Linked DNA regions of Homo sapiens. The protein of the gene in region 1 interacts with the protein of each later gene in a biochemical or structural test. Each region holds a gene or a part of one and is shown in the gene's direction. Other genes may lie near its edges. The genes, in order: RNF10, MEOX2 and RPS10.

The links.
Region 2: the proteins of RNF10 (region 1) and MEOX2 form a complex in vitro, tested with the Homo sapiens proteins (one study listed by BioGRID).
Region 3: of the proteins of RNF10 (region 1) and RPS10, one has a biochemical effect on the other in vitro, tested with the Homo sapiens proteins (one study listed by BioGRID).

The regions. Positions count from the first base shown.
Region 1 is NC_000012.12:120,572,207-120,575,310, forward strand, and holds part of RNF10 (E3 ubiquitin-protein ligase RNF10), read left to right. Parts: intron 1-3,104. UniProt on the Homo sapiens protein: E3 ubiquitin-protein ligase that catalyzes monoubiquitination of 40S ribosomal proteins RPS2/us5 and RPS3/us3 in response to ribosome stalling.
Region 2 is NC_000007.14:15,676,578-15,680,315, reverse strand, and holds part of MEOX2 (homeobox protein MOX-2), read left to right. Parts: exon of another isoform or gene 1-1,402; intron 1,403-2,668; exon of another isoform or gene 2,669-2,853; intron 2,854-3,738. UniProt on the Homo sapiens protein: Mesodermal transcription factor that plays a key role in somitogenesis and somitogenesis and limb muscle differentiation. Required during limb development for normal appendicular muscle formation and for the normal regulation of myogenic genes.
Region 3 is NC_000006.12:34,416,954-34,420,011, reverse strand, and holds the end of RPS10 (small ribosomal subunit protein eS10), read left to right. Parts: intron 1-1,587; coding exon 1,588-1,643; intron 1,644-2,464; coding exon 2,465-2,506; 3' UTR 2,507-2,558; downstream 2,559-3,058. Other genes in the region: RPS10-NUDT3 protein, read left to right, coding at 1,588-1,643. UniProt on the Homo sapiens protein: Component of the 40S ribosomal subunit. The ribosome is a large ribonucleoprotein complex responsible for the synthesis of proteins in the cell.

The DNA.
Region 1 (3,104 bases):
TAGGCGCCTGCCACCACGCCCGGCTAATTTTTTGTATTTTTAGTAGAGACAGGGTTTCACCGTATTAGCCAGTAGGGTCTCAATCTCCTGACCTCGTGATCCGCCTGCCTCAGCCTCCCAAAGAGCTGGGATTACAGGCATGAGCCACCATGCCCGGCCATTGACAGTTCTTTAGAGCAGTTGATACGGATCTTTCTTATGTAATTACAGCAGTTTGTACTGAGAAATAAGCAAGAATTGAGCTTTGGTAAGGAGGGTTCCGAAGTCAAGGAACATGAAATAATTGTGGAGGTGAGGTGAGAAGAGAGGGGGATCCTGAAAATTAACTGCTGGACTTAGAGATGATTAACAAGTGGCTCCCAGGAGTTATGCCAAATACTTGTTTTGTTTTGTTTTGTTTTGTTTTGAGTTGAAGTCTTGCTCCTGTCCCCAAGGCTGGAGTGCAATGGCGTGATCTCGGCTCACTGCAACCACCGCCTCCCGGGTTCAAGCAATTCTCCTGCCTCAGCCTCCCGGGTAGCTGGGGTTGGGTTACAGGCGCCTACCACCATGCCCGGCTAATTTTTGTATTTTTAGTAGAGACAGGGTTTTACCATGTTGGCCAGGCTGGTCTAGAACTCTTGACCTCAGGCGATCCACCTGCCTCAGCCTCCCAAAGTGCTGGGATTACAGACATGAACCACTGCGCCTGGCCTTTTTTTTTTTTTTTTTTTTTAAACTAGGCTTTATTGCTATTGCTTTTTTCCTTTGAACTTTATTTTGAAATACAGAGTTGAAAGAATAGTATTATGAACACTTAAACTTTTGACCTAGATTCACTAATTGTTACTATTTTGCTGTTATATATTTGCTTTCTCTTTTTTCTGTGTTGAAAAGAAGTTGCAGATATCCTGAATGATACTTTACCGCTAAGTACTTAGGAGATACATGCCAAAGAAAGTGGGATATTCGCCTATAGAACCACAGTGATCACATTAGAGAAATTCCACTGCCACAGTAATATCTAATATGGTGCATATTTATATCTCCACATTTGTCTCAGCGTCCTTCATTTTCAACTCAGGGCAGAATCCTGTTACTCCCTGCATTTAGTTGTCAAGTCTCTTTAGTCTCCTTTGATCTATAACCGTTCCTTTGCCCATATCCCCTTTTTTTTCCCTTCCATGGCCAGTTGTTTTATAGAATATCCTACAGTTTGGACTTGTTTGATTTCTCATGAATGGATTCAGGTTACATTTAAACATTTTGGTAAGAATAAGACATAGGTGACATTTTGATTACCTTTTAAGAGTAAAACAATTCACATGTCAAACTATTTGGATACTGTCTCAGTCCATTTGTGTGGGTATAAAAGATTACCCGACGCCGAGTCATTTATCAAAAAAAAAAAAAAAGTTTATTTGGCTCATGACTCTGCTGGCTGGAGGACTGGGCATCTGGTGAGTGCCTCAGGCTGCTTCCACTCATGGTACACGAAGTGAAGGGGTCCCTGCTTGTGAAGAGATCACATGGCTAAAGAGGAAGCAAGGAGGGGAGGAGGTGCCAGGCCGTTTTAAACAACCGTGTTCCTGTGCCCAGTTTCAAAATAGCCTTCAGCCAAGCTATTGAAGCAGCCTTTGTGAAACTGGACACACCAGCTACTTCAGATCCCTTCTGTGGTAAGGGCAGAGGCTGGAGTGCCCAGGGTTGTCAAACACACATGTACTGCCATTCCCACTGGGATCCAGTGGCAGACATCACTCATCAGCTCTTTCAGGAATGAATGCGAGAATAGGTCTCCCATCCCCCAGGGAGGGCATTAATCTGTTCATGAGGGGTCCACCCCCATGACCCATACATCTCCCATTAGGTCCCCACTTCCAGCATTGGGGATCAGATTTTAACATGAGGCTTGGGAGGGTCAAATGTCTAAACCGTAGGAGACCCAAACTCCTAGAGACAAAGGGAGAAGTTCACCAAAGTGGAACATAATGAAGAAAGGTTATTTAATGAAATCGGCATCTGCCAACACAAACTCATCTTGAGTAATAGGCATTCCTCACTTTGGAATATATGATTTAAGGACAAGGCATCCCTGCTTGAACCCCATGGGGTTTGTCTCTTGATATTTTTCCAGGAATAAAATGTTCTCTGCCTTTTAAGTGGCATATTTGCAGTTGGGGCTCATAGTGGCCTTCAGCAGTTACAAAGCTGGCCTTGGCCAAGTGGAATGAAAATTCCTCAGGGGCATGAGGATTGTTCTGATTTTATTGTCCTTGCAGGAATTTTACTGGCCTGTGGTTGGATCTGAAAGTTAATGATGAAGGAGCTATTGGAAAAGCAGACTAAAAGGTAGTGAGGGGCTGTTGAAGCGGTGTCAGGAGAGAGTTTAGTTAGTTTTCATGGCTTTAGGTAACTGAAGTTTAGTAGCCATGTGGTTTAAAACTGGAGGGTACTTGGCTGGGCACGGTGTCTCATGCCTGTAATCCCAGCACTTTGGGAGGCCAAGGCGGGCAGATCACCTGAGGTCAGGAGTTCGAGACCAGCCTGACCAACATGGAGAAACCCCGTCTTTACTAAAAATACAAAAATTAGCCGGGCGTGGTGGTGCATGCCTATAATCCCAGCTACTCAGGAGGATGAGGCAGGAGAATCACTTGAAGCTGGGAGGCAGAGGTTGCGGTAAGCCAAGATTTGCGCCATTGCACTCCAGCCTGGGCAACAAGAGCGAAACTCCATCTCGAACAAAACAAAAAAAACTGGAGGGTACTAGGCCGGGCACAGTGGCTCACGCCTATAATCCCAGCACTTTGGGAGGCCAAGGTGAGGGATTAACTGAGGTCAAGAGTTCAGGACCAGCCTGGCCAACATGGTGAAACCCCGTCTCTACTAAAAAAAAAAAAATCCAAAAATTAGCCAGGCGGGTGCCTGTAATCCCAGCTACTTGGGAGGCTGAGACAGAATTGCTTGAACCTGGGAGGCACAGGTCACAGTGAGCCAATATTGTGCCATTGCACGCCAGCCTGGGCAACAAGAGCTAAACTGTCTAAAAAACAAAAACTGGAGGGTACTACTCACTGCTTCCTCCGACAGCTCGATGTTTTTAGGGGTCCCAGGAAGGGCAG
Region 2 (3,738 bases), on another chromosome or scaffold:
GAATGTTGTACTAGATAGTATTTTATGATACAAAATAATCAATAATGTATCTATTGATCCATTTGTGCTCATCTCAGATGTTGTTTTTATGTTTCAGAATAAGTATTTTCATTTAAAATCTCTTGACATTATTTATTACCAAATTAACAGAAAGTTACATGGTAAGTGTATGATCGAATGGGTTATTAATTTTCATGGGTCATGAGTGGGTTTTTAATTTTCCTCTATATTTGAAATTTTTGATATATAATTTCCGGAATAATAAGTAGCTCATTATTCCTGAAGCTTTCATTTATAATGTTACTTTGTGTACAGAAATATAATATTTCTAAATTTATATATGTTACTCACTACTAATTGTGCACTGTATTTTTAAATATTGGTTTTCACAGTGTTATGAAAATAATTTACATTTTTTTGGTTTCTTACATCACCATATGCACAAGAATGATCAGGTAGAATCCGTACTGTATCTATACATTTTTGGAAAGGGTTTGTATGAAAGATAGAAAAACCCTTTCAAAAATAATCCCTTGTTTTATCAATAGAATTAGAAATTAATAAACTGGATCATTAACTTGTATGATAATATTGTTATTTTATTTTTAAAATTTCCATTTATTTAAATGTTTAATAATTCTAAAATGTTTGTGTACCTTGATGACAATTCTTATGTCCTTACAATGTGTACTTTTATTGCAAATATAACATATTTTTACTAGGTAGTAACTCAGTGGTAAAAACTTTAGGGTACTGATTATAGCTCTAAATTCAAAAGCTGTTGCTCTTCAAAATTTTGTAGAATCAATTCAATGTGAATGTTTCAAATGTATTTAAGTATTCTGCTGTTTGTGTTCATAAGCTTTCTTTCTAAGATGTTAGACGTATGTTTCTTAAAGCTTGCATAGGCTACATTGATTAAAATTATGATTATAAGCTGCTTACTTTCATAGTTTTTTGTTTTTATTGTAGTCTAGTAGAGAGGACAATGGCAAGGAAAGGATAAAAGGGAGGGTGCTGAATTAACTAGGACATGGAAGCTATACTTAAAACACACGTTAAAAGAAGGCGTTTACTTTATATATGTATATACATATATAGGTATATGCACACTCACACCCACACATATATATGCATGCATTACTGTAACTCCAAATTTAATTTCCTGATAATAGTAAATCTGAATTAGAGCATCCTTATTAAATGCATAATATGATTATAAATGTTCCAATTACAAAATTAAATATTAAGCTTGAAGCATATATAGTTTTGTGAAGAGTCCAGCAGGCTTAAGCTGGCAATCAATGATAGTTATAAAAGTCCCTGCAGTTTTTGTTTTCTTTTGTTTTTCCTCTTTATTTAGCTCATTATTCTTCACACACTTCAAGAGAATCCCATAATGCTACAAGGAAAAAACAAATTCGCAGTTATCTTACGTGACTGTGGGCAAGAAAATGACTAAGGTGAAATCATCTGTCAGGCTCCGCAAAACCTAGAGGAGGGTCCAGCTTAGGTTGGCAGATGCCAGTAGAATTTTAAAGGCCTAGAATTTTACTCTTTGAAAATATAGCCTTAAATTTTTGCCAGAAATGACACCCAAATGAAAACTTATTTTTGCAAAGTGATAGTTATTTGCAAATGCAGTAGTGAAATATATTCAGAGTCTGTTGAGGTAGCTTGTCCACTGTCTGGACTGCACAGTAAACATTTGGATGGTTATTCTTAGCCACCCAAAAAACTAGCAAACTAAACTGAGGTGTATTCTTATTAGTTGAAAAGATTAAATGGGCATGCCTCTTATCAAATTAACAATGAATGCAAAGCAAATTTTGCAAATCATTGATTTATGTTGGTAGGTAACACAAACAGGAAACTATTCAGAAAAATAAATATGTGTTATCCGAAACGTAATGGGGACTAGCTTGGTTTTGTAGAACAACAGCAATTTAGCAAATAACTTTCACATTTAAAGAACCATATAAATAATGCTTTAGCACTCACTGCATAGGTTGGAATCAAGTGATGTCTTATTTAATATTATTCAAAGATAAAATGAGGTCTTAGTATGTGTAGTGCCTTTAACAATTAAAATTTTCTCACCTATAGGCTATGCTTACGTGGGAATTTCTTTTTCTTATTTGAAGTATAAACAGATCTGGATGCATTAAACTAGACAGAATGTAGATGTAAAAATGATTGAGACATATTAAAATGACAGGAAAGTCAGAGTTTAGGCATCCCTATTTGGAGGCTTGCTGCCACCCATGTTTCTAAGATTACAGTCTTGTGAATGTCCACACTCAAAATTCAGGGAATTATAAATAATTTTTCCTCCAGAACTATTCTTTGCTCCTGGAAGTAGAGCTGTATAATTTATTTTCTAGAATACCCAGATGTTTAGGAAAGTATAAGTAAGTGGCAACACTTTTGCATATTTAGCCATTAGTTGATAAATCATAAAAGATTTATCCTATTTCTTAATTATCATATTAGACAAGGAAATAGATGTCACACTCAAAGGGATAATTGAAGAGAGTTTGATGATGGCAATTTGATGGTGAGTAGAATGTAGGGAAACCACAGGAAATGATGAATCCCCCAGGGTCTGTCCACAGTTGGAATATATTAGCACCCCTAACCTGAGAGGGTAAATGCAGGGACCTCTTACCAGAATCCAATGAGCGCAACAGGACAGAAGCCTTCTGGAAAAGTTGGGACCTCAGATGGAGGATTGCAGCTCATGTCGAATATCATCCAGTAACCTGTCTTCATGTCCTCCAATCTTCTTTTGTTGCTTCCATTGATCAAACACTATCCGAAGCCAGAACCCCGGAGGGTTAGGTGGATGCAACCCTAAGAGTCAACCGAAGAAGAAATGAGGCAAGCATATCTGGGAGAACACAATAGTTAGGGCTAAACCCCCGCTGTGTCTCTTACTATTGTCACCTCTTGGCCACAAATTTAACTTTTCTCTACCATCGTTTCTGAAAAGGAAATTGAGTTAATATACACAAAGCAATTAGAACAATGTCTGGCTTAGTAAAGTGTCAGTTATTATTTTTATCATCTATCAATGAATGTACAATTATGTAATGCATATGCACCATCTGAAAATAATCTATTTTATGCTACCTGTTTGCATTTTATTACAAATACTGCTATAGGAAATGTAACTTGCCTAAGTAATTACTAAAGATTTAAAATAATCATTGTCCTTAGAATTGTAAACGGCATGAAATTTCCCTGAAATGTAAGGTGAATTCTAGCCAAGTTATGTAAGAGGCTCAAGTTGCCTTTCCCACCCTTAAGATTTCCATTCCACAGCCTCTTTTACTTGGACCTCTCCTAACTTCCTCTTCTCTTGGGTCTCCTGCTACTTCTCCATTGAAAAGCTGTTTTCAGGAAGAGTGCATATTGAGCAAAATAAAGAATAAAATGAGGACTCTTTTTTTTTTTTTGAGACCGAGTTTTGTTCTGTTGCCCAGGCTGGAGTGCAGTGGCGCAATCTTGACTCACTGCAACCTCTGCTGTCCGGGTTCAAGTGATTCTCCTGCCTCAGCCTCCTGAGTAGCTGGGACTACAGGCGCCCGCTAATTTTTATATTTTTAGTAGAGACGCGGTTTCACCATGTTGGCCAGGCTGGTCTCGAACTACCTACCTCAAGTGATCTGCCCACCTCGGCCTCTCAAAGTGCTGGGATTACAGGTGTGAGCCACCGCGCCCGGCCAGAACTTAACT
Region 3 (3,058 bases), on another chromosome or scaffold:
ACTTGGAAGGCCAAGGCAAGAGGATTGTTTTGAGCCCAGGAGTTTGAGATACAGTGAGCTATGATCTTGTTGCTACATTCCAGCCTGGGCAACAGAGTGAGACCCTGCCCCCCGCACCAACTCAAATAAATCAGGGCCGGGCGCGGTGGCCCACTCCTGTAATCCCAGCACTTTGGGAGGCCGAGGCGGGCAGATCACCTGAGGTCAGGAGTTTGAGACCAGCCTGGACAACATGGTGAAACCCCGTCTCTACTTAAAATACAAAAAATTAGCCAAGCGTGGTGGTATGCACATGTAGTCCCAGCTACTCGGAGCATGAGGCAGGAGAATCGCTTGAACCCAGGAGGTGAAGGTTGCAGTGAGCTGAGATTGCATCATTGCACTCCAGCCTCAGGGACAAGAGTGAGACTTCGTCTCAAAAAAAAAAAATAAGTAAATAAATACAAATAAATCGGTTTAAAAAATATCTAAACGTGTTAATTTAACATGTAATCAGTATAAAGAGTAGTGAAATATTTTACATTCTTTTTTTCTTAAGTCTTTGTAATTGGCTGGGTGCAGTGGCTCACACCCGTAATTCCAGCACTTAGGGAGGCTGAGGCAGGCAGATCACTTGAGCTCAGGAGTTCTAGACCAGCCCGGGCAACATGGCAGAACCCCATCTCTACAAAAAATATAAAAATTAGGGCTGGGTGCGGTGGCTCATGCCTGTAATCCCAACACTTCAGGAGGCCGAGGTGGGCGGATCACTTGAGGTTGGGAGTTTGAGACCAGCCTGGAGAAACCAACATGAAGAAACCCCATCTCTACTAAAAATACAAAAAAATTAGCCATGCATGGTGGCGCATGCCTGTAATCCCAGCTACTCGGGAGGCTGAGGCAGGAGAATCGCTTGAACCTGGGAGGCGGAGGTTGCAGTGAGCCGAGATCGCGCCATTGCACTCTAGCCTGGGCAACAAGAGCGAAATTCAGTCTCAAACGAACAAAAAATATAAAAATTAGCTGCCTGTAGTCCCACCTGAGGTGGGAGGATCGCTTGAGCCCATGAGGCAGAGGTTGTAGTGAGCTGAGATCGTACCACTGCACTCCATCCTGGGTGACAGAGTAAGACCCTGTCTCAAATAAGTAAAAGAAAACTGGTGAATTTTGCACACGTCTCCATTTGAACTGTGACTGGGATATAGGACCGGGCAGCATCTTGTCTGCTTTTCTCCCATGGTGGTAATTAAGGCTTTTGTGGGCCCTTCCCTTTACATGTTAGTTCTTCCATAATTACACTCCCTTTGTTATCTAGATGCTGCTGTGAAGTGGGTAAGTCAGTCAGTGTGATAGGAAGTAGGAATCCTTTGGGAGGATTTATAGTTTGGGCTGTGAGTATTGAAGGGTGACATAAGGAAGGCTGAGAAGGGTGCCCCAGGAGAGACAAAGGTGGCTCAGAAGGTATTCCCCACCACTGGTGTAATTTGCTTATATTTAACGGAGTGGTACTTGGCTTTTCCTGCAAGATTGGAGTCAGTGAGTTGTCTTCCCTTGTTCTATAGTAGATTAGATCATATGATGATTCTAAATCGATGTTTCACTTTCTAGCTGGTGCCGACAAGAAAGCCGAGGCTGGGGCTGGGTCAGCAACCGAATTCCAGTTTGTGAGTATCTTCCTATTTGTTTTCCATGAGCCATCACTTGTTCTGGCCTCAGTCTGGTTGCTCTGCAAGTTGTGGGGATGTCATATAGTATGGGTGGGTCCTGTCAACCAGTTCCCTCCTCCCACTTTTTTCCAAATTCCAAATTTTACATTGAGTTGTAGCATGCAAACTTTTGTAAATACATAAATTACTGAAATGAGTCTCAGAAATCAGTACATGTGGCCTACTAGTATTTTCTGTTTCATTAATGCTTGACATTGAACTAAACACTGGAAGGTGGGTGGGCTTAAGAACCAAGATGGTATGAAATCAAATCCTCCATCTTTTTTCAGTTGATGTAATGTTAGGTAGGTTCCCCTCTGCCTCAGTTTCTCCATCTATAAAATAAGGTGATAATTACAGCTACTAAGGTAGTTGTGAGATTAGTTAATCCAGGCATAGTACTGGCATATCATTTTTGTCCTATGGCAGGTCCTCATAGCACACGATTGCTCTCAGATAATGTCATTTGTAAAAAGGAAGCATGTACAGTAGAAACGGTCCAATCCTGGTGCTGGATGCTTTCATAGGAGTATGTATGAACACACTCTGGGTGGGTGGCCATACTCCCACTTTACCAATGAAGAAATGGGCCTAGATGTTAGATATGGCCCCACATCCAGTAAGGGGCAGTGCTGGGATTTATAGCCTGTACTCAGCTCTCTCCCAGCTGTTTACATTTGGGGGCCTCTGGAGTTATAATGAGGCCTGAAAGTTAGCAAAACCTCCAAAGATCAAACCAGAGTGCCGCTCATGCTGATGTGATGTGCTTTCTCTTACAGAGAGGCGGATTTGGTCGTGGACGTGGTCAGCCACCTCAGTAAAATTGGAGAGGATTCTTTTGCATTGAATAAACTTACAGCCAAAAAACCTTAATCTTTTGTCCATTTTGTTTGCATTGTGCAGCCTGAACAGGAACAGTTTAAGTGTCAGAATGTAAATGGGGCAGTACAGGCTTGGTTTGGGGAGTTGTCATTGTCCTGGGTGACACCGGCTGCTGCTGTACTTGGCTTTGGCGTGTGCCCTGCTTTCTCTAGGCAGTGCCTCCCTGCAGAGTGGTGTCCCATATGGTGCTGCAGTTGGAAAACTGGGTCCCTTCTTTAGACCAGCCATGCTGCCTCAGCTCAGCATGGTGGGAAAATTGCTGGTTGGCCTGGAGTCGTGATTTGTGCCTGCTGTCAGGAACTATAAGAAGTACTGGGGAGGGAGGATGAAAGGTAACGACCAAGGAAATGGTGCACTTGGAATCCTTCAATTTATGGAGAAGAAGCACAGGAATGGTGTTTAGGCCAACGTTACTAATCTAAGTCTTCAAGGCTCAGCGTTTGTTGACAAGAATCAAGGGAGAAAACAATGCACAAAAACCACTGTTCAAA